3 separate regions of the Homo sapiens genome follow, and regions 1 and 3 are each linked to region 2. Evidence: fine-mapped expression QTL. A gene starts in region 2. Each other region holds a variant in brackets. All regions are shown on one strand. Distances are between the middles of the regions.

Region 1 (10,592 bases), 24 kb after region 2:
CCTTGAAGTAGCTAAAGAGGTGTTTTTCCTTAGCCTTCTCTTCTCCAAGCCAAACATTTCTCACTTCCTCAACAGTTGTGATCCCACTGTATCTAGATTCTCTTATTGTTTACATTCTGGTTTGTAAATTAAATTTAAGACACCCTGCTCATAGTAAGGAATGAGGTTGAGTTACTGTGTTGGCCACATTTGGCCTATATTCTATCTGTAGAGTTTTGTCCTATCCTAAGAATAATTTGGTCTTTAGTTCATGTGCCTACATGACTAAGAGATAATTTAATCTTTGTCTAAGATATCACTACTCTTTTTTAAAGAAAAGATGGTAGAGCTTTCTTTATGGCTTATTATGACCTACAAGCAGAATTATTGATGGTTTTCAAAGTCACACATTCTTTTCTCAAAAGGCCTAATACAGACTCATGTCTACCCTGCACACTTCTACCCCCTACTATATGCTATGGTCCACTTGACTACTATGAGTTTCCAACTATCAGCCTCTGTCATCAAAATTCAGGCTTGTAATTGAGAAAGCCGGTGGAATTTTCACTGAGGATTATTTTGCCCACCCAACAAAGCAAATGTCACACTACAGAGTGGTAGGGTAAATTCTGGTACATTTACACTATGGAATAGTACTATGTAGCCATTTCTAAAAGTGAACTAGAGTCCTATTACAGTTGATTTGAAAAGATTTTTACAAGGAATTGTTGAGTGAAAACAGCGTGGTGAAACAAAGCATGTGTATGAACCCATCCTTGTAACAGAAGCAATCACAAGAAAGCATGTATATATCCACAATTATAGTTGGAGACTTCAACAGCCCGCTAGACAGAATAATCTAGTAATTGATACCACTAGCCATTGATGGAACTACTAGACAGAAAATCGCAAGGATGGACAAAAGCTGAACAAAATAATCAACCAACAGGATCTAACGGACATACATAGAGCCTTCCACAAAATCACAGCAGAGTAAACATTCTTTTCAAGTGTTCATGAAACATTCACCAAGATATACCATGTTTTAGGTCATAAAACAAATCTAACCAAATTTAAAAGAATTAAAGTCATACAGAGCATGGTCTCTGATCACAATGAAATTCAATTTAAAATGGAACTAAATTAATAATTGATAATAGAAAAACAATAAGAAAATCTCCAAACTTTGAAATTAAACAACATGGCTGCAAATACTTAATGAGACAAAGGAGAAGCTTCAAAGGAAATACAAAAAATACATAGAATTGAATGAAAATGAAGCCACAACATGTCAAAATATATGGGACATAGCAACAGTGCAAAGAGGAAAATTTATAGCACCAAATGCTTACCTTAGAAAACAGAAAAGTTCTTCAATCAGTAATCCAGCTGTCTACCTCAAGAAACTAAAAAAAAGGGTTAAAGCAAGCAGAAGGAAGGCAATAACAAAGATAAAAGCAGAAATCAATAAAATTAAATATAGGAAATCAATTGAAAAAATCAATGAACGCACAATCAGATTTTTTGAAAAAAATTGATAAAATTGATACACCAGCCTGGGCATGGTGGCTCACACCTATACATATCCTATGCACTTTGGTAGGCGAAGGTGGGAGGGTCACTTGAGGCTCAGAGTTTGAAGCCAGCCTGGGCAACATAGCCAGATCCTATTTCTGCAAAAAAAATTTTTTTTAAATTAGCCTGGCGTGGTGGCAGGATGCCTGTAGTCCCAGGTACTCAGGAGGCTGAGGCAGGAGGAGCACTTGAACTTGGGAGTTGGGGGTTGCAGTGAGCTATGATTGCACCACTGCACTCTATCCTGGGCAACAGAGAGAGATCCTGAATAAAAAAAAAATTGTTAAACTTAGGAAGATTGACAAAAATTAAAAAAACATTTTGGCAATATATTAGTTTCTTGTTGCCAATCTAACAAATGACCACAAATTTAGTGACTTAAAACAACAGAAATTTATCTTACAATTCTGGAGGTCGGAAGTCTGCCCTGAGACTTACAGGACCACAGTCAGGGTATCTGCAGGGCTCATTTGTTCTGGAGGCTTCCGGGGAGAGTCTGCATCTTGTCTCTGGAAGCTTCTAAGGCTTCTAGCTGTGAGAACGCTTTGGCCTGTGGCCACATTAATCTCTGCTTCCATTATCACTTTGTCTTTTTCTCACCTGTGGTCAGATTTTCCTTTGCTTATCTCTTATAACGACCCTGTGGTTATATGTATGGGCCACCCGATAATCCAGAATGATCTTTCTATCTCAGGATGTTACTGAACTGAACTGGGGTCCACTCACCCAGTGCAGTAGGGCCAAATATTTATTGAGGTTTGTAGTGGGAGAAAGGAGGGTGTTAGCGGGAGGGTATTTAAGTGTAACCCTTACTTGTAGGGTGCCAAGTAAGGAGAATTGGGTTGCTTACGCTTGACACCCGACCTCCCAGATGGCTTAAACGTAAGGGTTTATGGAGGCAGGGAGGCATAAGTTATAGGCAAGGTCATAAATCAACACAGGGAGGCTATACATTGGTTTGACTTAAAAAGACAGGACATCTCCAAGCAGAGGCCCACAGGTCATAGGTGGATTCCAGGATTTTCTGATTTGTGATTGATTAAGGAGTCAAAGCTTTGTCTAAGAATGTGTGATCGGCAGAAAAGAAGGTGAGCTCTGGTTCATAGGCATGACCTTCTCCAGGCCCCTCAGGAAGAAATTTAGAACAAAGAATAGCAATCAGAGTTGAGTCCTCAGCCTCTCCTTACCTGAGATCTGTGTGCCAGTGGCTCCATTTGGTGGGGTCTAGGTTTCTGGAAAACAACTCAGGGACATATTTTAAGATGTTGTCTTTGGTTTTTACAGGGAACCAAACATCTTGTGACTTTAGTTTGTTTGGCTATTAAGTTTTTTTTTGTTGTTGTGGTTTATTAAGTTTTTATTTACTTTTTTAGGACTAGTTAAGTGACTGGAAGTTTTTTGAATGCACCGAAGATTAAAAAAATTATGTCTTTGGGGGCCCACAGGCTCCTAAGAGGGGTTCCTGCTCTGTTTTAAGGATCCTTAACTTAATCATATCTATGATGTTTCAGTTCAGTTTCAGTTCAGGGTCTTCCCTGAAGTTATTAGATGTCAACTGGGACTGTAATCGTCCGAAGGTTTGACTGGGGCTGGAGGGTCCACTTCAGGATGGTGAACTCCTATGACTGGCAGGTGGTATCTGGCTATATGCAGGAGGGCTCAGTTCCTTTCCACATGGCCCGCTCCATATTTTTCCCATAGGGATTCTTGAGTGTCCATATGACATTGTGGATGGCTTCCCCCAGAGTATGCAGCAATCAAGGCAGTAATAGATTTTATGACCTAGCCTTGGGAAGCACACACTGTCACCTTCACAGTATTTTATTGGTCACATGGGTCAGCCCCATTCAATGGGGGAGGGCACTCTATAAGGGCACAAATGCCAGGAGGCCTCAGAAACATAAATATTTTTGCTATGGGTATAGATTCATGGGTTTTAGGCTGGAAGAAACCACAAAAATACCCTGGTTGACAGTAAGAATCAGTCCCATTGATGATAAAAGATGGAATTTAAAAGCTTAATAGGGACAATTTTCTTCTGCAAAGAGGTAGATGGGGTGGCATGAATTTCTTGTGTTAGAGACAGTTTTAACAGATGAACCCTCAGGTGCCAAGTCAGTTAACCAGAGCTGGGTTGACAATCAGGGATTTAGGAGGGAAAAACCCAAGGCAAGGAAAGTCCTTGTGAATGTGACCAGGTGGAGAAACAGGTAGATGACGATTTGCCAACTCCATGTTCAGGGGCTGAGCTGAGGCCAGAGTCGGCAGCTGGTATTTCTTCTCCAATGGGCTACTTAGGGTGGCTTTTTGGGCTCAGTGGCACTCCAGAACAAGTCTAGCATATTGGCTGGTGGTAGCAGGACCTTACTGACATTCCATATGGAATGGAGCTGGAAGCAGTCCTGTGAGGTCTGGGTGACACTCGCACATCCTGTAAGGATGGAGAAGCAATGGACTAGGGAGCTGAGACCCCCAAGACCATCATTCTTGCCCAGGCTTCAGAGACAACTGAACTTCTTCTTGGTCATTCACACCAGACTGGAGATGGCTGAGTGGTTGTTCCGTAAGAGCAAGGAGAGAGAAGCCGGCTCCGGGAATTAAGGGCGTGTGGCATCGGGTAGAATGCAAGCCAAGCATTCAGAAATGGTCCAGTCCAGTGAAATGGAGGCTTGTATTGAGTCTGGGGCCCAAGGCTGAGAGAAGGCTGGCTCCGTCGAACCAGAAACAGCACTGAGAACCTGGCTGGTGGCACCGGCTTCAGCTGCACAGAGAGGGGGTCAGCAGGCCACACAGGGTCATCCTGACCAGCAGTCTTTTTTGTGGGGTGTCGTGAAGAAAAGCAATGCTCAAGGGTAGATAACGAATTTTCTAAGACTGAGCAGCCAGCTTAGTGGCAGAGTGAAAATGAGAATAGAAGTGGAAGTACACTGGAATGAAGATGGCTGCTTAGTTTTATCTGCCTCACCCACTAGCTAGAACGTGGCTTTAGCCATAATACCAATATGTATTTTTGGAACATTCCTTTGCTCTTTTCCTTTGACTTTGGATAGCAGATGTGGT[C/T]TATTGCATTGCTGTGATTTTCAGATGAAATCAAGCACAGTGGTTTACTTTTAACCAAACCCCAGTCATACTTCCTCTCTCTGACTCAGCTTCCTTGTCGTACGTAAGATTGATGACACACGCCACCAGCTCACATTTACAAAGGCGTTCTAGGTCTTTTGATGAACACCTATATGGCATTTATATTAATATAATTTTCTCTGTGAGAGGAGAGATTTAAATGAGAGTTGTCTTAGTAGCTGAGGAAACAGATACATGATTAGGGGAATAGCTAATTTCTTGCCTGATGTAATGTATGGAAACTGAGAAAAGCCTGGAAAAGGAGGTTGGAAAACTGAAAGTGGGTGGGCACCACTTTTCACACCCAACCCTCTTTCCATGCCCAAAACACCGTGGGGCATCCCCTCCTCACAGGGCCTGTGTGCTGGGCTGCACTGACATGCATTCCGGCTCAGAGTTGGCTTCACCCTTAACAGCGGGTACTGGGACTCTGTGGACACATGGACAACTTTACTTAACTCTAAATCGGGGTGTCCAGTGTTTTGGCTTCCCTGGGCCACATTGGAAGAAGAAAAATTGTCTTGGACCACACATAAAATACATTAACACTAATGATAGCTGATGAGCTAAAAAAAAAAAGAAAAATCACACACAAAAAAATCTCATAATGTTTTAAGAAACAGAACGGCTTCCAACCAGTTAGTAACCTCCCAGGGGTAACCACTATTCCAAGCCATCCTGGGCCACATATAGCCCATGGCCAAGGGTTGGACTAGCTTGTTTAAGCCCTCCACTTCTCTTGGATGATGCCTGTCATATGGAGGTGCACCTGCACCTCAAGTTCTTTATCTGTAAAATGGGTGTAACGGCAGCACTCTGTTTATAAGGTCGTCAGGAGGAACGAAGGGAATGTCTGTGAAAGGCTCTGCGGAGTGCCTGGCAGGTGGCAGAGGCTCACTGAAGGTCCGCAGTCTGAGCCATCCCCAGTCCTACTGTTAAACCCAGAGCTCACTTCTCCAAAGCCCCATGAGTCAGGGCCAACCTCGCCTTTAGTCATATTTCCTTTATTCAAGAGAGAGTACTGTGATATCACATGATAGTGACTCCAGCCGTGTGTCAGCTCAGCCTTTTAGCTCAAGTGAAATTTGTTCTGCTGAAGGTGATGTCGTGGCACCGTTCTTGCCACCCTTGAGGTGGACAGGAGGTTGAGACTTGCTGGGGTGAAAGCTGGAGTGACTGAGGGGCCTCCCTGGCCCAAATGAGGGTTCTCAGCTTTACAGCTTTGGGAAATCACTTTTGGGGCCACAGCAGTAACAGCATGAGCCAATCACAAAAGGCAAAGGACAAAGTGATAACCAGGGAGGAGTTTTGAAATGCTCTGAGTGAGAGCAGCGTGGATGAAACGCTGTGAGTGAGAGCAGCATGGATGTTGGGGTAGGTGATGTTTGTGGTGTTAGTGCTGAAGTAGGCGATGTTCATAAAAAGCTCCCAGCGGCCGCTGCCTTATAAGTAGGGCATCAGACAACATTCTCATAATACCAAGTTATTCTGGGGGGATTGCCTATGAATGATTTTAACTTTTTGATGCTTGTTTGTATTTTCCAAAATTTTCTGCAATGAACATACATTATTTACTAGGAAAAGGTGAGTGTTAGAAAGAAAATAATTTCAAGGACCCCTTAAAATAAATGATTTTTTAATTCTTTTTTACTGAGCACAACATACATAGTAAACCACAAAACCTTAAATAATCAGCTCAACGAGCACATATTTATACACACATCACACCAGTGCAAACATCAACAGACTAAGATCTAAAGCAAATTTCCAGTCCCACCCCCTGAGTTCTTTTGTATTTGATACCTCCCAGGGGTATCCACTCTTCTGACTTCTGTCACCATTGATTAGTTTACGGCAATTATCTTTTAAATTAAACAATACTAATAATATTTGGTCAAATTAGCACTATTAAGTATAGCCCATTTTTTCTAAGTATGGATTGTATCTTTTAAATCAATTCAAGGTATTATTTAGAAGAGAGTTCATAAATATATAACTTTGATGGTGCAGAATCCTGTATAAAGTACATTAGACAAATTAATTTATGAAAAGTAGAGTTTCCCTTTGCTCAAATACATATAAATGCTTGTAATAAATCATCTTAATTTTAACATTACTGAATCAAGTCATTTTGGAACTTCACATTATTCCAATGCCAATATCAGACGGATGTGCCATGTTATATAAGCTGGAGAGTGGGCAGTGGTTGACTTTAAAGAATTGTGAGAAGGTGCGATTGCACACAGGCATCTAGAACATGTGTGGTGGACTTGCTAAGACAGTTGGACATAGATATTGAGGATGTCTATGGTGGACCCACTAAGACTGCCAAGCCACAACTAACTTGAGCAATTCTGAAGGATTTTGAAAACGTAAATATTCTGGAGCAGAATTTTGCTTGAATTTCAAATGGTCCTGTAAATTGATTTCATTTGACCTCTATTTTTTACAGTGCATGGTAATTGATCTATGCCCAGGCCAACTGGCCACCACTGGGAGAGGAAGAACAACCCATAGGATTCGGCTTAAAGAGATGCCCAATTCACAGGACTGTGGATTCTCCCGTTTTTAACAAGTGACAATTCACTAAGTCAGAGTTAAGACTTAGGAGCTTGATTGCAGTGTTAGTTTACATCCCATATCTTTAACTCTAATTTTCCAGAGAGCAATATGTAACATATGGCCACTTCCCCTGACATAATCTGAAGCTACTCAAATCACTAGGGGCTGGCTCCGCTAACAATATAATCCTAGAAAGAGAATCATCAAACATTATTGCAAATCCAGAAGTCTGGGCACAACCTTACTGAATCTGAATACTTTTAGTACTGAATCTGAATACTTTTAGTTAATAATATTTAGCTTTCTTTTATTAGGGCAATACATGCTAATTGCAGAAAAAGAAGGACATAAAGAAAAACATAAAGAAGAAAATTAAAATCACCTATAATCATAATCCTCCATGATGATGTCTTAAAATGTCCATGAATTATTTTAGCCCTTATTTTTATTTATGCAAATGTGAGATCAGGCTCAATGATTCCCCAAATTGTTAAATATTATTGGCAGACATAATTTTTAATAGCTGCATAATATTCTATCCTGGAATATGTAAAGAATACTTACAACTCAACAATAAAAAGAAAAATAACAGAATTTAAAAACAGCCCCAAATTTGTCTTAGTCTGTTCCTGCTGCTATAACAAAAATACCTTAAACTGGGTAATTTACAAACAACAGAGGCCTGAAGTCCAAGATCAAAACACCAGCAAATTCAATGTCTAATGAGGGCTTTCTGCTTCATGAATGGCTCCTTCTCATGTCATTCACACATGGCAGAAGGGACAAGTGCTCCCTTCAACCTCTTTTATGAGGCCACTAATCCCATTAATGAGGACAGAGCCCTCATGACTTTATCAGTTACCAAAAGGCCCAACCTCTTTATATTATCACATTCAGCAGCAGGTCTCAATGTATGAATTTTGGGGGGACACTAACATTCAGACCTTATGAGGATTTGAATAGACATTTCTTCAGAAAAGACATACACCAGCCTGGGCAACATAGTGAGACCTCATGTCTACAAAACATTTTAAAAAATAGCCAGGCACCGTGTCACATGCCTGTAGTCCCAGATACTCAGGAGGCTGAGGTGGGAGGATTACTTGGTCCCAAGAGGTTGAGGCTGCAGTGAGCAGTGACCACAGCACTGCACTCCAGCCTGGGAAACAGAATAAGACCATGTATCAAAAAAGAAAAAAAAAAAAAGACATGCAGATGGCCAATAATCACATGAAAAGATGCTCAACATCTTTACTCATTAGGGAAATGTGAATCAAAACCATAATGAAATGCCACTTTATACCCTTTAGGGTATAACAAAAAAAGCTATAATTAAAAAAATGGACAATAACAATTATTGGTGGAATTGAGAAATCAAAACCCAGCTTAAAATACACAGCTGGTGGGAACATAATATAGTACAGCTGCTTTGGAAAACATTTTGGCAGCTCCTCAAGTTAAATACAGAATTACCATAAGACCCAGCAATTCCACTCACAGGTATATACCCAAGAGAACTGACAATGTATATTTACACAAAAACTTGTACACAAATGTTCATAGCAGCTTTATTTACAATAGCCCCCAAATAGAAACAACCCAAATGCCCATCAATTGCTGAATAGATGAACAGAAGGTGGTATATACATACAACGGAATAGTATTCAGCCATAAAAAGGAGTGAAGTACTGACCATGCTACAACATGGTGAATCTTGAAAACATTATGCTAAGCAAAGGAGCCAGACACAAAACGGCACATATTGTACTATTCCATTTACATGGACTGTACAGATTTGGCAAACCTATAGAGACAGAAAGTAGATTAGTGATTACCAGGGACTGAGTGTGGGAGAGGATGGGGAGTGGTTGTTAAGGGGTATGGGTTTTTTTTTGGGATTATGAAAAAAGACTATAGAATTAAATGGTGATGGTTGTACAGCATTGTGAATACAATAATCTCCTCTTATCCCTGGTGGCAATGTTCCAAGACCCCCAGTGGGTATCTGTGATCATGGATAATACTGAACCCCATACGTGCTATGATTTTTCCTATACATACATACCTTTGATAAAGTTTAATTTATAAATTATTCACAGTAAGGGATTAACGACAATAACTAATAATACATCAGAACAATTATGATGACAAGTCAGCATCACTACTCTTGCACTTTAGGGCCATTATTCAGTAAAATAAGGGTTCCTTGAACACCAGCACTGCAGTACCATGACAGTCAGCCTGATAACTGGGATTGTTACTAAGTGACTAAGGGATGGGTAGTATAGGCAGCCTGGAGATGCTGGGCAAAGGGATGATTCACACTGCGGGTGGAGCAACTGGGGCTTCATCATGCTGATCAGAAGAGTGTGCAACGGAAGACTTATTAATTGTTTATTTCTGTAATTTTCCATTAATATTTTTGGACCCCAGTTGATTGTGGGGAACTGAAACCACAGAAAGTGAAACTACAAATAAGGGGGATCTACTGTATACTCAAAATCACTGAATTGTACACTCTTAAAAGGTGAATATTTATGGCATGTGAATTATACCTCAATATAAAATACTTGTAAAAAGTACAGCTATATTAAATAAAATGAACCAGAGGTATGTGGGAATTTGACTTCATTAGAGTTCTAGGATCTAAAGGTAGGTAGCAGTTATCCAGATGAAGAGGGGAGGAAAAAAGACTTTAGACGACAGGATCCTAGTGTGAAAAGGTCTTAGGAAGAGGGGTGCAGAGAGATTGATCATGCCTCTTCTTCATGCATTTTTGATTATTTCCCTAGATTAAGTGAAAAGGATGGGACATTAAAATTTAAATAAAATGTAATTTCTGAAGCATTTTATAATGCTTTATTTTACAATGAAGTTCATTGTAAAAATTATAATATTCAGAGAAGTAACAAAATGAAAAGAAGCCACCTTGTAGTCACATCCTGCAGAGCTGGCAGAGGGAGGAGAAGGAGCCCTAGTGCACTATGAGTGGATGTGTAAATTGGTGCAAATTTTAGGAAAAGCGAATTGAAAATCCTTACCACACCAGTGTGCGGTGGAGACTAGTCATTGTTTAGAATGCAGCATGTCTAACTTGCTTTGATTATGCACACAGCGATGCCACTTGTCCAAAATCCATGCCCTCTCATGTAATTCTCACCATATTCCATTCTTCAGGCGAGTAAACAGAGACTCCACAAGCTCAAGTAATTTGCTGAATGTTCACACATAACATTCCATGAAGTGGGCCTTTAACTGAGGGCTGTATGACTCCAACTTCTATTCTTTTCTTACTAAAAAGCAGAACGCAGAAATACATGCAAGTTTTATAGGGCTTTGTCATATGCCAGCCCAGG
Region 2 (10,592 bases):
ACAAATCCAAACCATATCACTCACCCAGTGTGGCTCTGGCACATTTTGTAACTCCTCTGATTCTTGGTTTCTTTTCATTCAAAACAGGCTGTAAACCATCTATCTATATCTCTCTATAGCAGGCATGCATTGGTGCCTAGGGACACTCAGTCAAGGTGGTTATGACTGTCATCATTACATTTGTTAACTATCACTGGTTTTTCTCTTGAAACTCTCCTCCATGACATTCATCAAACCAGGTTTCCATATTTATTCTCCAAATTATGACCGTTTTTTTTTCTTAGCTCCCATCTGGGAAGTCTGGCATTTGCAAGTTTCCACTTCCAGCCCTGACTGCTCTTCGGCTCTGGCCATCTCTACATGGAAGATCCCCACCCCTCACACACATTCAAGCCCAGCCCTTGCCTTTCCCCATGACCTGCCTGTCATGGGGATGCTCCTCATCCTCATGGCTAACATTCAGCTCAACCCAATGGTCCAAGTTAGAAACGTGGGCTTTGCTTGGCATTCCTTTCTTTGGGAGAGGCTGGGCTGCAGGGTGCCATGGGCACACAGCCTTCACATCAACTTTTTCTGGGGGTGCTCAGCTGTGGGGTGCCACCTGCTGGAGGCTGTTCCTCCCTGGGCAGCCCACACTAAAGAGGTGAATGTGGGAGAGAGTGAGGGAGTGCGTGAGAGTGAATGAGGAGCCCTGCAGGCCAGGGGATACTCTCTGTGGATGGCACTCTTTCTCCAGAACTCTTGGAAGGACGAGGTGTGTGGGGCCTGGGTCACAGCCCACTTCTGCCTCTGCTCCCTCCTGCAGCCTCCCCTGCTTTCTGTGGAGCTTGATCTCTAATAAGCATCTTGCATTCCAAACTCTGTCTTAGCTTCTAGCTGCAGACAGCCTACCCAGCCTCGCTCTCTCTTACACTTCCTCATCACAGAGACAGATCCTTTACCTTCCCAGCTATCTTGAATCCATCCCTCTCTTTCCAGCTCCACTGCTCTTGCTTTCATTCAAGCCCTTGTTCTTTTTAACTTGTCCTGTTGTCTCCTACCTCCTCTCAACTTCCCAGAGCCACCCCAAGTCACTATCAAAGTGGTCTCCATAAAAGGCAAACCTGACTATGTGACCCTCTCTCAAGCCCCTTGTGTCCATTTGTTCTTGCATTGCTAAGAAGGAATGCCAGAGGGTAATTTATAAAGAAAAGAGGTTTAATTGGCTCATGGTTCTGCAGACTGTACAGGAAGTATGGTGTTGGCATCTGCTTGGCTTCTGGTGAGGGCCTTAATTGTGGCAGGAGGTGAAGGCGGAGCAGGAGTGTCACATGGCATGAGCAGAAGCAATAAAGAGAGTGAGAGGGGAGGCGCCACATTTATTTTATTTTATTTTATTTTATTTTATTTTATTTTATTTTATTTTATTTTATTTTATTTTATTTTATTTTTATTGTTTTTGAGACAAAGTCTTGCTCTTTTCGCCCAGTCTGGAATGCGATGGTGCGATCTCGGCTCACTGCAAACTCCTCGTCCCGGGTTCAAGCGATTCTCCTGCCTCAGCCCCCCGAGTAGCTGTGATTACAGGGGCCTGCCACCATGCCCGGCTAGTTTTGGTATTTTTAGTAGAGATGGGGTTTCACCTGTTGGCCAGGCTGGTCTCGAACTCCCGACCTCAGGTGATCCATCACCTCGGCCTCCCAAAGTGCTGGGATTACAGGCATGAGCCACCACACCAGGCCGCCATATTCTTTTATCCAAGCAAATCTCATGTAAGCTCAGAGCAAGAACTCACTTATCACCAAGGGAATGGTGCTAAGCTATTCATGAGGGATCCACCCCCATGATTCAGTCACCTCCCACCAGGCCCCACCTCCAACACTGAGGGTCACATTTCAACATGAGATTTGGAGGGGACACACATCCAAACCTCATCACCCCTCTAAGCCTTTATGAGTGCCCAGCCTCCTGACCTCCTCACCAACCCAACCAACCTACCAGGGATTCTGGGAGACTCTGGACTGCTCAGGCCTGGAGCCCTTGCCCACACAGTTTCCTCCTGTGAAGTCACCTGGAGGATGCCTCCACTGGGGTCAGGGGTCACCTCCGCATCCTCAGGACAAGCTCACTCCTTTGGTCAAGTTTTTGTATCTCACACATATTACAAAATTCACATAGTCTTAACTAGGTTATAACATTAATTTCAGATCTTCTGCCTTCCAGAAGGCAAAACCACTTTCCCCAGGGCCCAGCTCATGGCACCTTCTCAGAAATTTGTGGATTCTCCCTCAGAGCCTCCAGAGGAACCAGCTCGGCCCACACCCATGCTGGATCCCAGCATGACCCATTTGGACTTCTTACCTACAAACTGGAAGATAATAAATTGTGTTATTCTAAGCCATTGATTTTGTGGTCATTTGTTACGGCAGCCATAGAAAGCAAATACGTGTTTAAGCATTGATTTAAAAAAGAAAAACCACAACATACTGGAAAGGCTCTCATTGTAAATTGCCCCAGACTGCCTGGCTTTGGTGAATCTCAAGGCTGACTTTAAAATGGAGTTTTTTTTTCCTGCTTCCTTCCATGGCTATCAAGCAAGCCAGCAACAGAAAATTTCATTTACATTTAGCATTTTCTGTCCCAGTGGTCTCCTCTCTCATCTGTCTCTATGTTGATCAAGAAGATATGTGGGCTTTCTGGTACAGGGTCTAAAATAAACATGAACAGCTCCCCAGAAAGGGCAAAGGGTTTTCTCATGAGTAGGGTGTGTGAGCTTCTGTGTGGGCTGCACAGCCTCCTTTTGATGCTGAGAGGCCTTCGGGTTTTTCTTTTTCCATCTTTCTGCTACGTTCCAAAATGTTGATACTATTTTCCAGGTAAGTGAGGTTTTACCGTACTACTGTGTTCTTGGAATATTAATTTCTGTCTTTGATTATATATCTTTTCATATATAGTAAATTTATGTTGCTATTTATATTTTAAAATGACCAATTTCCCTCCACTGGCCTCATAATAAAAGAAATAAAAGTCTCCTGTTGGCTAAACGTTAAGTACATAGCTTTGGATTTTTTTTCCTCCCTGGAGCCTCAGAACGTGTACAGGTGTCCTACATGCCTTTTACAAAAAAAGAATCAAGGGCTAGGAACCTAGGTTTTGAACGTGCATTCAATGTACATTCATAATAAAAGCTGAACGACTGGCACATTCATGGTTGCTCCTTGATGTAAATGAACGGCTGAATGAAAGTTTAGGGGCACAGCTCACCTCCAAGAGAGACCCTCTTCACACTTAGACCTGACCAAGGGATCTTGAATTCCCTTGTAAAACTAGCTTTTCCTCTCCATAGCAGCTGGCCTCTTCCTCCCGGTATCTTTGTAATCCGGCTGGGTGTTTTTTTTTCTTTTTCTTTTTTTTTTTCCCACACTGCCGTTGGATAAAAGATCCCGCCTTTGATTGAAATGGAATCTTCCACTATTGAGCAAGCCTTTGTTGAATGAGTCATCGGGGCGGCCGCTCATTGGCTGAGGCCGCTGGAGCCCAGGGGATTGCCTGGCACCGGCTGCAAGGCCCTGCTTCATTCACAGAAACGCTGGCTCGCTCGCTAGCCTTTTCATTCACACAAACAGCATTTCATTCACATTTTGCGGTTTTTGTCTGCATCTAATGAAGATCTCGCTTTGGGAATGATAGGGCTGTTTCGCTACAGATCTGGGGAGGACTCTGATAACCATCAAAATCATCTATGGGGTGTGCAATTGCTGTTGCTATGCAAGCTAGGGAAAGGGAACAAATGAGTGCCGTGTAGCTGTTCTGCTAGGGCTGCGGCACAGGAGGCGAGCCGTGGGGACGCGTTTCCTGTACCGGGGACGCCGCGGCTCCTCTGCGCTCTTGCGTCCTAGGGGTTGGCCTCACCCGCTCGCCCGCCATGAGTGGCGCTCATTAAACTCTGCTCCATAGAGCAGGGTTCAAGACTCAGGACCTCACGTGCCCCACATGTTCGGTCATGGGAGTGAGAGGACTCAGGGTGACCTGAGAGTGTGCTAGAGCTGAATTTATTCGCTTGCTCAGAAGTTGCGGGAAAACTTTGATAGTGAGTGTTTCACTGTGGAGCAGGTGATCCTAATGCATGAGGAAGCCTGGCAGAGCCCACTGAGGTCAAGAGTCAGAGGGCTTCAGTCTCGGGCAGACCTCTGGGGACAGCGAAAGCCTTGCTCTCCTAACTGAGAGGAAGAAGGCCTGTGCATTTTACTTGCAAGCCCGAGCCTGACTCCTGAAAAGAAGGCATATTTTCCTCCTTGTGGATTTGATGTGCAATAAGAACAGCTGCATTTTTTCCTTCCTGACTGCAGGGTTGCAAGCAGCAACTGAAGGAACATTGAAATGTATTTGTAGCATTTCTTAGGCGTTTTTCCAGAGCTTAAACACATTCAGTAGGATTAAAGCTTCAAATGCAGCCCCTTTTTTGGAATGGATTTCTGGAGCCTGTTGCCACTCGTGAAAGAAGCACTCTTCTTTTTTGGAAGTGGATATTCAACTTAACCCTGGCTGAGAAAGACTGCTGTAAATGAGCAGGGAAGACCCCTTGATTGGCACTGTGCAGAAGTTCATATGCAGATTTTTTTTTTTTTTTTTTTTTGAGGAACTGCATTGCCACAAAGACACTTGTCATCGCTGCTCTGTTAATTTGAAAAGAAAAAGCAAAACCCAGGAAATTGGTATTTTACAGTCACCTGGGGGTGAATATCCTTTTTGTTTTTTTCTATTTAAAAATTCCTGCTGCCTTCCAAGTCAAGATTCATCAGGATTCGCTGAAGATCTGATTCTTAAAAAGCCTTCGTCACATTTTAACGCATCGCTGTTAGACACTTTTACAGGCTCACACAGATGGGCTGAGCAGGGACGAGCAAAACCTAACAGAATAATGGGTTTCAGAAAGTTCATTTGACGATTTGAAGGAACTGGATTGGATTTACCTTTGGCACAAATGCAGATTGCGGGGGATGGGAAGGTGAAAAATCAAAGGTTGGAAGGAAATATCTGGGAAGGTAGAAAAAGGAAATTTGAGAATTGATTGGCTATAGTGTGCTGTCAGCGGGTGGATGTCGTTTTTTTCTTCTTTTTTTCCTTTTTTTTCTTCTGCTACAGGAAGTGATTTGCAGTGCTCACCGAGCCTTTGTTGAGAAGGGTCTCCTCTCAGAGTGAGTCATGCTTTTGCTGTGAGCAGCCCCAAGCAGCTGGGCGCTCCATCAGAGGCAACTATGACTTTTGCAAAGCAAACGTGCAACCCCAAGCAGCGGTCTCCCGGGCCGGGGCTGCGCGGCCGCCGCTGTGCTGGCTTTTAACGGTGGGAGGGCACCATCCTCTTGCTCTGCTCTCGTTCTCCAGAAGGCTGTCCCGGGGCCCCCACTCTCCGTCCCGCTCCGGGGACAGTGGCTCGCCTGCTATGCGCGGCAGCCCGCGCCGGGGCCGGCACCAGCAGCGCCCGGGCGGATGCAGCGAGCCCACGGAGGGGCATGCTTCCACGCACCAAGTATAACCGCTTCAGGAATGACTCGGTGACATCGGTCGATGACCTTCTCCACAGCCTGTCGGTGAGCGGCGGCGGAGGCAAGGTTTCGGCGGCGCGCGCGACCCCGGCGGCGGCTCCCTACTTGGTGTCCGGCGAGGCGCTGCGCAAGGCGCCCGACGATGGGCCCGGCAGCCTGGGCCACCTGCTCCACAAGGTGTCCCACCTGAAACTCTCCAGCTCGGGCCTCCGCGGCCTGTCGTCGGCCGCCCGGGAGCGGGCGGGCGCGCGGCTCTCGGGCAGCTGCAGCGCGCCCAGCCTGGCCGCCCCGGACGGCAGTGCGCCCTCGGCGCCCCGCGCCCCGGCCATGAGCGCCGCCAGGAAGGGCCGGCCCGGCGACGAGCCGCTGCCCAGGCCCCCTCGGGGGGCGCCGCACGCCAGCGACCAGGTGCTGGGGCCCGGAGTCACCTACGTGGTCAAGGTGGGTGCGGGCGCGGGCCGCCCTGGGGGCTGGGGGTTCTGGGGCCAGTTCGGGGCAGACTCCTTCATTCCCTGAAGCCCGGGGTGCGGGGCGCTCCCGCGACTGTCACGTTAGAGGCAAGCAAATGCGCACTCCTTAGCAATCAGCTCGCTTGACAGCGGTGAGGAGGGAACTACAAATGCGCTTTTCCCGCATCCATTGGGAAAAGGTTTACCACTCGGGTGGCCCGCTCCGTCCCGGTTTTCCCTAGGCTCCACTTTTTTGGCACGCCTTTGCCACCTGGCTTACCAGATGTCTGACCAGTGTCATGGGCGCCCAACCCTGGGCAGCGGGGGTCCGGCCTGCCTAGTATCTAGGAAACGCGCTGGGGAGAGCTGGGCAGCCCCCGGGAGGAGAGATGCACGGAGTGGCGGCCCTACTCCTGCTGTGTCTTCCCCGGCGGGAGGGTGGGTATCTTGTTGCCCCCCGCAGCAAGAATTCCCAGCTCCTTGCAGAGCAGGCCAAATGCTGTGCTGCTTTCTCTTCGACGGGCTTTACTTTCTCACCCAGTCCAGGTTTTCTTGGGGTTTGTCTTTCATTCCCTAAGGAAAGGTTCTGGTTTACAGCAGCGGAATGAGAATTCTGGGACTATTTTTCTGGTGACTGTAGTCTTCCATTTAAATGTGCTAAAAGGGAACTAGGGCGCTGCGCTTGGAGCCACAGGCTGGAAAGGAGTTTTTTCCTCCAACACAAAGATGATAAAATCACGATGTAGTCAATAAAATTCCACCCTTATGCAAGCATGTTATGATATTTAAGGAAAAATGCTCAGCACAGTTCAAGTAATCTGCCACGCGGTTATTTCCTTCTGCCGGTTGGGCAGCTCAGAGCTTTAACAGCCTCCACAGCCGAGCAGACAGGGGTTAAGGATGGAAGTTGCAGTATTTCAATCCTGCCACTCCAAGGCATGGCTTTGTATTGAGAAAGAAATGAGACACAAACTCTATCCCCACCGTGTCCTCAATAACACTGAGAAACCCCCAGGATGTCTGTTCCGTAAATATTGGCTGCAGATTCCAGTGTAAAAATTAAATAGAACACATCCTCAGGTAAAATGCAGTGTCTGGTAATTTCGGAACCAAAATATTAACAGAAATACTTAACTTTGTGGATTGCCTTTAACTATATAAAAAGTACTTACAGATGAATGTGGCCATTGTTGTTAAAAGAGGGCTTCTTCACCTTTTCAGTCTGCTTTTTAATTTAACCTTCAAACTATGGATTATTATATTTTACCAAAGGGGTATAGATGAGCATAATATATGCATATTTGGTTGAGTTTATTTTAAGAGGTACTGAATATTCTTCTTGTTTTGCTTATTTAAATTATATAACCAGGGGCCAAAACAAAAAGAAAAAAACAAACCAAACCAAAAATCCCTGACAGCTTTGAGGTTGTGTTTACTTCTGGGGTGTTAGCATAATTGCTGTTTTAAAAAGCCTACATTTCAAATAGACAAATAGACCTTGGCAAAGCTTTTTCTACCTGTCATATTAAACAGAGTAGTTTTCAAATTGAGGGAGAATTCTCAAACTTATGGCTTTAAATTTTTGTTTTAATCACTTTGCTTAGAACTTTGCTTTTGCTTTTTAAAGAAGGAAGGCCAGCATCAAGTTTGAAAGGTCAAATGTGGCAAAATAATGATGAATGTACGAAAATAAGACGGCTCTGCGTCGACAATCTGTTGCTGTAAGGTTTGTGACTTACTGGCAGCATCAGCAGTAGTATTCATAGTCAAAGGGCTGGATCTGCACAGAGCTTGTCTGTGTCTTGGGGTTACTTTGTGTTGCCTCAAATTTAAGGGGTTGCAGTGATGGGTTGAGGGGTGCATGGCATGACTAATTAGGGCTCTGTACCATCCATGTTTTGGTTCCTTGTTCATTAGCAGCCATGAATGGTGCTGTGATGTGAACATAAACGCAGGCATTGTCCTCTGCTGTCCTGGAGAAGTTTGAAATCACGCAGAAAGAAAACCAGATGCTAAAGTGTGTGTGCATGTTTGATTCAAATTATCACATGGCCCTCTGTTGGCGCACATGTGCAAATTCCCGCATTGCCCATGTTGAGTTTAAAACCTCGAACTTATTTTATTGAAAAATTGTTAAACTGAAAACAATCTTAATTTGGCGTTATTTAGAATTTTTGAATAGTTCTACCGGTATCCTTACTTTAAAAGATTTCTGGTAGATAGAAATGGGCCATCTTTATCATATGACTAGATACCAATAGTAAAATATAAAGGTTTAGGGTTTGGGAAAGGATGCATTATTCTCTTTGATATAATTTTTTTCTAAATTAAAAATAAAGCCCCCAAATGTTTTCTAGTTTCCTGGAAAATTTATATACTGTATTATAGATTTTCCCCCTCAAAGAAATACCTACTTACAGGTGATATTAGGATATTGCACATATGAATTATAATTCAAAAATATTTCAACTTAATCTGAGAACAGGGACTGTAAAATACAGAAGTCTGGTGAATTTTGATCATCTAGGAAACATTAAACTATTTGAGCAACAGCTTAGAATGTGAATTAATGAAGGACTTAAAATTTAAACATGGAAGAAGTTCCTGAGCAACAGTAGAATTCAAAGCTCAAAGCATGTCTAATTGGTCCATCATTGAGTTTGCTGCTAAATAACAGAATGGGGCTATGCACACAGAAAGGCTGCAGCTTACTCTGCCTAGAGGTTTATATTCTTTTCAGCTGGGCCTCATTGGCAGCACCTTTTTACTCCCCTAAGTATCTTGACATTTCCTTTTTTCTTTTGGTGACGTAAAAGAAAGAACAAGGAACTATGCTCTTGATAGAAAAGAAAAATCCAACAGCAAAGAACAATGACTATTTTCATTAAATTTCCATTTTAAAAGTATTTGATATTTGGACCTAAAAGAAATACCAATGAGTATTGATTACGGTGCTGCCCACCTTTAAATTATCTTATCCTAAAGTCAAGCCTGGGTAGGACCCCAATCACTCAAGGAGGCTGCTGGTCTTTAGCAGGTTCAAAAGGCAATATCCTGGTCCTCCACCTTCTCTGTCCTCAGATCCACGGTGGGGAAACTGTAGGAAGGAATATGAACAGTGCAGGGGACAGGAGGCAGGGGTTCAGTTTTTAAAGAGCCAGTGGGCCATCTGAAGACAAGCACAGCCTTGACATTCAGCTCTGAAACTGCCTGCTGGAGGGGCGAGGCTGGAGCAGGAAGCAATGCTGTGTGGGCTGCACCGGGTTTGCCTTTGGCCCCAGCGTGGTCCCCAAAAGACGGGCTCCTTCTTAGAGCACATCACAGCACAGACTTCAAAAGGATAAGAAGTGACCATATTTAGAAATGACCCAAGTGCCAAGGGCAAGAATCAGGAGGCCCAATGTAAAAGCAATGGTTTTAGGTGCCCACTGCTCAGAGCTATTCCAACAGCGTCAGCATTCAGTGAGCCAGCAGATTACGCCATTCATAAACACCTGTGAAGGCTCCAGCGAAGTTACATAGGTTTCAGCTTGTGGAGTGTTGTATATTTACTGACAGTGAAAATGGCGAGCTATTTATAGGAGATTTAACGATCAGAAAAGTACTGCATTATTTCCTGATACACTGGACCCTTCCTGATATGCTTCCCTTTTGGAACAAAGCTCTGTTTTTACAAGGACTCTTTAAAAATTATTTTATTACTCCCATTTGTGCATCTAATGATATTTGGGGTGGTATAAATCATTTGCTTTATTTGTAAATGCTCTACTGCCTTTTATAGGTGGTCTTCGTAAATTACATTTACTCAAAAATTTATTCTTAATTTTTTTCACTTGACAAAGTGTATAAAAATATCTTAAATTTTCATTTTCTCAGAGCTGTATTCTTTTGGTAACTGTGAGCAAAGATCATACAAAAGTTATTTTAACTATATTAAAATAACTATATCAATTCTACTATAATATTGTAGAATTTTATTTTACCTCTAGACTGAAAAATTGATTTTGATGTGGAGTTGAACTTTAAAAAGTTGATTTTTTTCTCAAAATTCTTTCGAAATCTTATGATATGGATGGCTTACACGTAAATATCTAAATGGTTTGAAAAATAGTTTAAGAATTTCTTTTGACATTAATATATAAAGTTATTAATTTGATCTGGATAGTGAGTTGTCTCTTTTTATGTGACACAAACATAGATGTGTTAAAGGCACACACACACCACACACATATACACAAACCACACACACACCTCACATATACACACACATATGCACATACACACCATGCACCCACACACAACCATACAGACACTGCACACACACAACACACACACCCCACAGCCCACAGGTAGATGACTTGTGATGACTTTGGATGGGGGCTGTTTTCTTTCTTGTTAGAAAATAGGAAATGTCATATTTCTAGAAATACCCAATTATCTCAGTCATTTCTTTTATATTCATGTTTAAGAAAAAGATAAGCTACGACAAAACTTCCATCCTATAAAGAACAGATGGCTGCTTCTCTGCCTCCGCACGGTGTCTTACCTTTGAGTATATGTCATAGTTTTGAGGAATATATGATTACTATCATTAAAGCAGAGTCCTGGGAACAGAAAG
Region 3 (10,592 bases), 40 kb after region 2:
GTTCTCCTGTGACTCAGGAACACAAAAAAAATTTCTGTTATACTTGGACCCCCATCCCTCTGTCTCTAACTTTTCAGATTCTGTGGAAGCTTCTGCAATTCTGCCTACAATGATGCGTTTCCCAACTCCCTTCACCTTCTGAAACTCCTGGGTGGAAGTGTCAGAGGCATTTGAACCAGAGCAACTCCATCTTGAATATGGGCTGGATAAAATGAGGCTGAAACCTGCTGGGCTGGATTCCCAGATGGTTAGGCATTCTAAGTCACAGGATGAGATAGGAGGTCGGCACGAGATAAAGGTCATAAAGACTTTGCTGATAAAACAGGTTGCAGTCAAGAAGGTGGCTAATTCCCACCAAAACCAAGATGGCAATGAGAGTGACCGCTGGTCGTCCTCACTGCTACACTCCCACCAGTGCCATGACAGTTTACAAATGCCATGGCAACATCAGGGAGTTACCTTATGTGGTCTAAACAGGGGAGGCATTAATAATCCACCCCTTGTTTAGCATATCATCAAGAAATAACCATAAAAATGGGCAACCAGCACCCTTTGGGGCTGCTCTGTCTACGGAGTAGCCATTCTCTTATTACTTTACTTTCTTAACAAACTTGCTTTCACTTTTGCCTATGGACTCACCTCAAATTCTTTCTTGTGCGAGATCCGAGATCCAATATCCCTCTCTTGAGTCTGGATCAGGACCCATTTCTGGTAACATCTTTCTGGTGACCATGGAAGGGACAATACTGAGGAAGCCCCCAACCCAAAGGCTAATTTGGGGTAAGTGGTGGGGTCCGGTAACATCTTTCTGGTGAACTCCAAAGGTATGATACTGAGGAGACCCTCGACCCGAAGGAAAATTATCTGTACACACACCAATTGGCTGACTTTGGGCAAGTGGTGTGCATATATGTGAGTAAAGGATGGGATTGGGTTAGAGGCCAACTTAGGGGAGTTAGAATCTCTCCTAAGACAGAGTGGGTAAAAGACACCCCCCGCCTTTTTTTTTTTTTTTTTTGACAGAGTCTCACTCTGTCGCCCAGGCTGGAGTGCAGTCGTGCGATCTCACTGCAACCTCCTCCTCCTGGGTTCAAGTGATTCTCCTGCCTCAGCCCTGAGTAGCTGGGATTACAGGCACCCACCACCACACCTGGCTAATTTGTGTATTTTTAATAGAGATGGGATTTCACCATGTTGGCCAGGCTGGTTTTGAACTTCTGGACCTCAAGTGATCCACCTGCCTTGTGGGATTACAGGCACCCACCACCACACCTGGCTAATTTTTGTATCTTTAATAGAGATGGGGTTTCACCATGTTGGCCAGGCTGGTTTTGAACTCCTGGACCTCAAGTGATCCACCTGCCTTGGCCTCCCAAAGTGCTGTTATTACAAGTGCAAGCCATCGCACCCAGCCTTAAAGGCCCCTCTTAATAAAAGGCAAGGAAACTCGACTGAACTTGGGTTCAAGGCCCAACTTAAGAAGGTTAGAGTCATTCCTAAGATTTAGGGGGTTGGAGGAGCCATTTAGTAAAGTCCTTCTGGGCTAAGAATGGATTTGGCACCATGGGATGTTAATTCCTATTCTTTTTTAATTAATCTGCCTTACATTCTTTGCTGATGGCTGTGGGCGACAGAATTAGGCATGTACAGGATGAAGGGACATGGGGAGCTTTTTTCTCCCTAAAGGGGAAACATGAGAGCTGATGGAACTGCTGGAAAAGATCCCTCCTATGACCGACAAATGGCCACCTGAACTTTTCAGTGTTGCTGCAATAGATGGGTCTTTCTCTGGCCTCCCTGACCTCTTCGCCTCCCCCACCCTGCTGCAGACAACGCATTTCTCTCTCTCTTTTTCCTTTCCTATATTTTTTATTATTCAGGGTGATCATCTTGCCCTGTGACCGCAAGTTGAAACTGCTGGTCAGAGGTTGGATTAATGATGACAGGGCCCAATCAGGAGCAAGTTTGAGCCATAGTAGTTTGACATTGGGTGCTAAGCAGGGCAGCTAGTGTCTGCTTTGTCACATGTATTTTTCTCCGGCCAGAACAGAAAAAGACAATTTTCCTTTATAATGTGGCTTGGCCCCCAGGGCTGTGGTGCAGCCCACAGGTCACTAGGGCTGTTCACTAGGGAAAGGGAACCCAGAAGCCTGGCATGCTGGCAAAAGGGTAAAAATTTCTTACCAGTCAGACTTCTGGCCTCTCTCTCTGTGCAAACCAGTTGAATGAATGGTAAAAATCACTGTTTATCTCCTTCATAAAGTTTTGATTAATGGAAAAAAGATTTGTGAGGCTACTCTTAAGCTGTGGTGAATCTGGCATGATTTGTGTGTCTTTCTGTATTGTTCTGTCATAAAGAAGGGTACCGTAGGATAGAACACAGCCCTGGGACTCCACAAGCTCGCTGTTCAAGACAGCCCAGCAAACTGGTCAGTTATGTCCTTGGGAGCTTGACCTTGTAAATACGTGGCAGTACTTTCTCTTGGTCTCTGCCATTACAATGGCATCCCAACTTCAGGGTCAATTCCCTGCTTAGGGAATGAGTTCTTTCTTGTTTGATATCTGCATGACCATTACCATTTGTTATTCTCTTCTCCTCCAAAAACTGTCCTGTATTTTCCTTTCACTGAGCCAGAAATATTGGCTGTTTGGCCTGGCTAAAGTCTGGTAATAAGAAATTTACCATGACTTTTTAAAAGAGCGCTATGGTTAAAAATCAGCTTAATTAATTTAAAATATGGATATCTAAACTATATATATTTAAAAGGGCTTTATCTTTTTCCCCTTCTTGAATCTTGTTCTTTCTGAAAAAAGTTTTTCTCCTCAGTCGACTGAACTGTTTTTCTTCATTTTGTCTTTTTGCCACTGTTAATGCCGACATAAGAGAACCTGAGATAATTACTAACAGCCTAGAACTCCTGGAGAAAAACAGAGGAAGTGCCACGGACCCTGTTTTGGGAAAATTCTCTTTTTTTTCCTCATGAAACCCCAGGAATTAAAAGCAGTTAGTTTCCTCTCAAAATCTAAGGCTTTGTTCTGTTTTGCATTGCCGTATCTGATGTTTTTGACTTTTGCAGGTATCAGAAATTGTTTTGCATTATGAGAGAATTTGGTGTGTAATAACTAGGTAGGAAATATACTTTTGGAGATGGCTAATGGCAGTTATTGGGAAATACTCAGCTGTGCATGCTTGGATAAGAAACACATGCTCTTGGCCACCTAGGAAGTATGGAGATGCGCCCCCCCACCCACCACCACCGCCACTGAGAGATAAGACTTCCATGGGGAGGGGCTGATTCCTTCTTTTTGGGATCCAAGATCTGGTATAAAAGCAGGACCCTTAATCTGGGGGGGGGAATCTGTTTGCCTTCCAGCTGTCCCTGCTTATTAGCCCTAGAAAATGCATGCTTTCCTGGCTCTGGGCTCCACCCTGAAGCCAGTAATCCAATTAAGAAACTGGTAAATGAAAAATCTTACAACTACTGGGTCTTCTTCTGTCATGTATTTATGTGTGTTGTGTGTTTGTGATATAAAAAAGAAGCTTTCATTGGTTTAAAAACAATGACTGCTTAAATCAAGCATTTTGTCAGAAAAGTAAAAAGTCTAATGGCTTTTAGTTCATGTGACTTTAGTACTCTTCAAGAAATGACAGTTTTAAAAATTATTGGTAAAATTAAAATGTCTTCAAAATTTAAACATTTGGTCTAAATTACTCAGGTCAGATATTAGGCTTGCTAAATGCTTTAAGGTAATAAACTGTTTCTTTAAGTTTTGAAAATTGTTCAATTTACCTACTTTAGAGCATTAGATTCTAAATAAGGCCTAGGGACATATGGAGAGCCATGCTCCCTAGCTAGGCTCAAGAGTCAGCCTTTATCAGCCCTTTTGCAATAGGACAGAATTGGAGAAACTGGTAATTTTACCAACGCTTTGACTGTAATGGTGTTCTTTCCTTTAAGGAATCAAACTTGATTTGTAAAGCTAATAAAAGCCCCTTGAAGAAACTGGCCTCATGCCTAGTCTACAGCAGTCTCTGTACAGAATTCCTGACCTGTGTGATAAGTAAAGAATGGCACTTATCTTAGGCCCAGGAGCCCCAAGTTATCTTGGGATTTCAAAAGGAAAGGAATTGACACAACTCATAGGTATTTGAGGGTACAAACCTATGGCAGGGCTCAGCTTTATAAAAGTCTTATCTGAGATTCCTTCTATGGAACAGAGTTTCACAAAAGCCAATTTAAAAACAGCTTATGTGAAAAATAATTATTCTTACTGCACTTTATACAAATAATCAGGCCAAGTGTAATAAAGCAAAACAGTCTTACCATGATTTGTCCTTAGTAACAATGGTAAACTGGATAGAGAAAGATTATGTTTCAAGAACTATGGTACACTTGTTATTAGATTCTAGTCTCATTGGTTGTTTTTGAGTTTTTTCTTCAACTTAGGCTGATCTGGCTCATTCCTGTGAACCAACCAGCAATCTCTGACTGCTGCTCAGAAGAAATAAGAGGGATGGGTAATGTAAAAAACATCTGGATAAAATCAATATTCTAATTCTGGGTGCATTAGAATCAGCTAACAATCCCATATCAGCCTGGTTCCAACAGTTTCCCAATTCATGGAAAGACTTCTAGTTTAGTTTACTTGAAATAATTGTACTTATTTTGCTTTACTGCTGTGGAATGTATTACTGTTGTACTCTTCGTGTAGGAATGCAGGATAAGCTTACTCAATGTTTTCTTAAATTGAATACTTATTAATCTTCCAGATACCACCTTTTCTCAGAACTCAAGAGTCATGAAT[C/G]ACCCTTACTATACTGATGCCTCCTGACAGAGCTCCTTTCTATGCCTAATATAAGAGACCCTAATAGGCAGGAATATCATCACCTCTAATCATCCTGAAGAAGTTACAGAAGATGGATCTTTATCCCTCCGCAACCCTTAGGATTAAGGGTTCTCTTAGAAAAGGGAGAGGGGAAATGTCAGAGACATTTGAACCAGAGCAACTCCATCTTGAATAGGGGCTGGATAAAATGAGGCTGAAACCTGCTAGGCTGGATTCCCAGACGGTTAGGCATTCTAAGTCACAGGATGAGACAGGAGTTTGGCACAAGACACAGGTCATAAAGACCTTGCTGATAAAACAGATTGCAGTCAAGAAGCTGGTTAAATCCCACCAAAACCAAGATGGCAATGAGAGTGACCTCTGGTTGTCCTCACTATTACACTCCCACCAGCTCCATGACAGTTCACGAATGCCATGGCAATGTCAGGAAGTTACCCTATATGGTCTTAAAAGGGGAGGCATGAATAAACCACCCCTTATTTAGCATATAATTGAGAAATAGCTATAAAAATGGGCAACCAGCAGCCCTTGGGCCTGGTCTGCCTATGGAGTAGCCATTCTCTTATTCCTTTACTTTCTTAATAAATTTGCTTTCACGTAGTTCTATGGACTTGCCTCAAATTCTTTCTTGTGCAGATTCAAGAACCCTCTCTTAGGGTCTGGATTGGGAGCTCTCTCCACCAGTAGGACAGATCTGCTGTCACCCTTGCCCTCAGATGCATGTTCTTTGTCCCCCAAGTCTCTGTAGCTGGCAGCTCACGGCTTCCCAGGGCAAGGCGAGAAGCATCAGAGTCTACAAAGGGTGACATCTATGACTAATCTTTCCCAACTCTGGTTTGGCTTCCTGCCCTTTCAGTGCGTTTGCAGCCTGCACAGACTCATAGTTGCAGAGGAAAGTCTTTGTGAAGACTCTGTTACAAAATAATGGCTTTGTCTTTGTACTATGGGCTGTTATCGTTCTTTTCTTATGGATTGAAGGAGCAACGTGTTTCATTTATTTTCCTCTTGCTCCTGATGAATTGAGTTTGCTTTTGGGGTCTTTGTAAGTTGCAGCTCTTCTGATGACTCTGATTTCTTGCCTACACACTCTCATTATTTCTTTGAATTCTTTAGCAAGCTAGCTCAGTTTATTCTATCACTGACATTCTCATTTCTGTTACAGGAACTCTGTCTCCACCCCTAGACGTTTTTGCTTTTAATATTTCTCATTCAGAAAGCTAATTTTATTCTGTGCCCTTGAGTTATTATTTTTAATAATAGTGCAGTTTGCTAATATTCCTGTTTCCCAATAAAAAAGTTTCAGAAACTTGATTGGAATTTTTTTATCATGAACTTGAGTTTTCACAAAGTCTGTCTGCCACAATTGTACCATCAATTTCTTAAGATTTGGGATTTTTTGGATGTCCTAATTGGAAGTTGTGTATCTAAGGCTTATTGCAGTTAACTGGAGGTGCCAAAAACCATAATGTGTTGAGATCCTCAAAGTAATCTTGAGTTTGAGAAATAAAACACACTGAAACTTAAGCCATTTTTAGCTAAGTGTGAACTGTTGCTGAGCCCTTAGCCATGTGTATAAAGATGCTCCTGAGAATCTGGACTAAAGTGGAAAAACAATGGTATCTCCATGACATGGTTTAGCTTTGTGTCCCCCCACTAAATTTCATGTTGAATTGTAATCCCGATTTTGGGGGAGGGACCGGGTGCAAGGTGATTGGATCCTGGAGGTGGATTTTCCCTTTGCTGTTCTCATGATAGTGAGTATGTTCTCACAAGATCTGGTTGTTTAAAGGTATATCCACCTCCCCCTTCACTCTCTCTCCATCCTGCTCCAAGCATGTAAGATGTGCCTGCTTCCCCTGTACCCTTCTACCATGATTATAAGTTTCCTGAGGCCTCCCCAACTATGCTTCCTGTACAACCCGTGAAACTGTGAGTCAATTAAACCTTCTTTCTTCATAAATCACCCAGCCTCAGGTAGTTCTTTATAGCAGTGCAGAATGGTCTAATACACTCCAGCCATATTGTTACCTGAAAGTGGTCCCAATCCAGACCCCAAGAGAGTATTCTTGGATCTCGCACAAGAAAGAATTCGAGGCAAATCCATAGAGTAAAATGAAAGTAAGTTTATTAAGAAAGTGAAAGAATAAAAGAATGGCTACTCCGTAGGCAGAGCAGCGCCAACGGCTGCTGGTTGCCCATTTCTATGGTTATTTATTGATAATATGCTAAACAAGGCATAGATTATTCATGAGCTTTCTGGGAAAGGGGTGGACAATTCCAGGAACTGAGCATTCCTTCCCTTTTTATATAGGGTAACTTCCTGACATTTCCTGGCATTTGTAAACTGTCATGGTGCTGGTGGGAATGTAGCAGTGAGGAGGATCAGAAGTCACTCTCATCGCCATCTCTGTTTTGGTGGGTTTTAGCCAGCTTCTCTGCTATAAGCTGTTTTATCAGCAAGGTCTTTATGACCTGTATTTTGTGCTGACCTCCTATCATACCCTGTGACTTAGAATGCCTTAACTTCCTGGGAATACAGCCCAGTAGGTCTCAGCCTCATTTTTTCCAGCCCCTATTCAAGATGAAGTTGATCTGGTTCAAATGCCTCTGACATGTTTCTCCTCTCCTTTTTCTAAGAGAACCCTTAATCCTAAGGGTTGAAGAGGGACAAAGATCCATCTTTTGTAATTTCTTCAGGCTGAATAGGGGTAATGATATTCCTGCCTAACTACTGGGGCTCCTCAGGGTAGAGAGGAGCTCAGTCAGAAAGCATCAGTTTGGTGAGGGTCATTCATGACTCTTGAGCTCTGACAAAATGTGATATCTGGAAGATTAATAAGTGTTCAATTTAAGAGAATATTGCGTAAGCTTATCCTGCATTCCTACACAAGGAGTACGACAGCAATATATTCCACAACAGTAAAGCAAAATAAGCAAAATTATGCCAAGTAAACTAAATAAGAAGGCTTTCTATGAACTGGAAAATTGTTGAAACCAAGCTGATATGGGGTTGCTAGCTGATTCCAGTATATGCTGAGAATTAGAATATTGATCCAGATTGTTTCTACATTACTCATCCATCTCAATTCTTCTGAGCTGCAGCCAGAGATCACTGATTGATTCACAGGAATAAACAGAGTCAGTCTAAATCGCAGAAAAAAAACCCTCAAAAACAACTGATGAAACCAGAATTTTATAACAGGTGTACCATAGTACTTGAAACATAATTTTTTCTCTCTCTCTATTATCCCACTTTTACTCAAGACAAATCATAACAGACTGATTTGTTTGCAAAAATAAGCCTTAGTCTTATACTTGACCAGATTATTTGTATAAGGTGCATCAAAAATAATTTTTTTTAAATATGCTTTTTAAATTGGCTTTGATGGAATTCCTTTTCTATAAAAGGAATCTTAGATAAGACTTTTTTTTAAAGCCAAACCCAGCCATGGGTTTGTACCCTCAAATACCTGAGTTAAATAAATGCTTCTTCTTTTGAGGTCTGAAGAAAACTTGGGGCTTCTCAGCCTGTCAGAAAGTGACATTCTTTACTTACCACAGGTCAGGAACCCTGCACAGGGACTGCTGTAGAAAAGGTATGAGGCCAGTTTTCCCAAGGGGCTTTTGTTGGCTCTACAAGTCAAGTTTGATTTCGTAGAGGAAAGCACACCGTTTGAGTCAAAGCCTTGGTAAAATAACCAGTTTCTCTAATTGTTTCCTGTTACAAAAGAAAACATGATTGTTGTACTTATGCAAATATTTATATTGCCATAAATTAAGATTACTCAAAAATAATTTCTAAATTCTGGAGAAATCACATAAAGAGAAACAAATATGCTCTGAATTTTGTTTACAGGAGTATACTTTACTCAATTGCTAAAGGCTGTAAATACCTCAAAAGAAAAGTTTCCTTAACTCTGGAAAACAAAACAAAAGATCAGCTACATTTTAAGCAAAAGTCAGAAAGATTACTTCAGTCTTCTATTAGTTCAGCCCATGCAGTTAATTTCTGTTCTGCTTGATATTAATAAACATTTCAGCTCTCCATGAGAGCCCTTAAAGATTTTTCCTCTATTCTAATGTTACAATCTCCAAAGTTATCAGAAACCTGCATTCGTTAGTACCTGTCAAATTCTATAGCTGATTATAAACCACCTTTTGAAGAGGATCAAAACAAGAAAACAATTGTCTGTGGATGGCAAAGAGTCTTAGGACAGCCACTATTAAAGTCACAATTGACAAGGAAATTTTGGTTACATCTATGGCACACAATAATTTAACATAACAACTATAATTATTAGACAAATCTATTCAATCTTAATCAGTTCAACTGTAAGGCAAGATTCTTATAAACCCTTTATAATCCCTTAACAATTTTCAGTAAAGAGCAGATCAGTGCTCTGAGAAAATCCTGTTGTGCTTTTATTTTAGTGTTCAACTATTATTCAGAAAAACTGAATAATACCCCCTTTAACTCTAGATAATATGTTCACACAAAGAATCTTTTTAACAATTAATTTTTTAATAAACTTTCCACAACTTGTTCAAACCTTTAATATTTTTCTATCTCACTTTAAAAGAATCCTTTTACCCTTTAAACACAGGCAAGAAATCCACATTCCCAGGCCTTCTTATAATCTTTTACCAAAAGTATATTCTACTTTCCTTACACTCCTTGCATATTGTAGAACTGTTTCTTTAGTAGTCTCAAACACATATTGCACTGTTAACTTTTAGCAACTTTTACTTTTGGTGAAAAACCTGGTTCATAAGTGATTATAATTATGTGCCAGGTGTGGAGCCTAGGACACCAGACAGAAGTGCTGTAAGAGCTGACTCTTTCCAGCATGGCTAAGGGGCATGGCACTTCACATGTCCCCAGGCCTCATCTAGAATCTAATGCTTCAAAGTAGATATTCTGAACAATTTTTTTATTATACTTTAAGTTCTAGGGTACATGTGCATAACATGCAGGTTTGTTACATATGTATACATGTGCCATGTTGGTGTGCTGCACCCATTAACTCATCATTTACATTAGGTTTATCTCCTAATGCTGTCCCTCCCAGCTCCCCCCACCCCATGACAGGCCCCAGTGTGTGATGTTCCCTACCCTGTGTCCAAGTGTTCTCATTGTTCAATTTCCACCTATGAGTGAGAACATGCAGTATTTGGTTTTCTGTCCTTGCGATAGTTTGCTCAGAATGATGGTTTCCAGCTTCATCCATGTCCCTACAAAGGACATGAACTCATCCTTTTTTATGGCTGCATAGTATTCCATGATGTATATGTGCCACCTTTTCTTAATCCAGTCTATCCTTGGTGGACATTTGGTTTGGTTCCAAGTCTTTGCTATTGTGAATAGTGCCACAGTGAACATACGTGTGCATATGTCTTTATAGCAGCATGATTTATAATCCTTTGGGTATATACCTAGTAATGGAATCACTGGGTCAAATGGTATTTCTAGTTCTAGATCCTTGAGGAATCGCCACAGTGTCTTCCACAATGGTTGAACTAGTTTAAAGTCCCACCAACACTGTAAAAGTGTTCCTGTTTCTCCACATCCTCTCTAGCACCTGTTGTTTCCTGACTTTTTAATGATCGCCATTCTAACTGGTGTGAGATGTTATCTCATTGCGGTTTTGATTTGCATTTCTCTGATGGCCAGTGATGATGAGCATTTTTTCATGTGTCTGTTGACTGCATAAATGTCTTCTTCTGAGAAGTGTCTGTTCATGTCC

What was found.
Region 1: its variant is fine-mapped to the expression of SHC3 in fibroblasts (GTEx, PIP 0.94).
Region 3: its variant is fine-mapped to the expression of SHC3 in fibroblasts (GTEx, PIP 0.98).

The regions. Positions count from the first base shown.
Region 1 is chr9:89,148,867-89,159,458 of GRCh38, reverse strand. All of the region lies in intron 1 of SHC3 (SHC adaptor protein 3), which reads left to right. Among named protein-coding and RNA genes, the nearest start is that of SHC3, 25 kb to the left of the region's middle. The variant C/T (reference allele first, on the strand shown) is at 4,615.
Region 2 is chr9:89,173,361-89,183,952 of GRCh38, reverse strand. SHC3 (SHC adaptor protein 3) reads left to right here and starts at 5,135. Exons shown (of 12, transcript NM_016848.6): 1 at 5,135-5,966. The coding sequence starts at 5,493. RefSeq lists an enhancer at 10,273-10,592.
Region 3 is chr9:89,133,100-89,143,691 of GRCh38, reverse strand. All of the region lies in intron 1 of SHC3 (SHC adaptor protein 3), which reads left to right. Among named protein-coding and RNA genes, the nearest start is that of SHC3, 40 kb to the left of the region's middle. The variant C/G (reference allele first, on the strand shown) is at 4,807.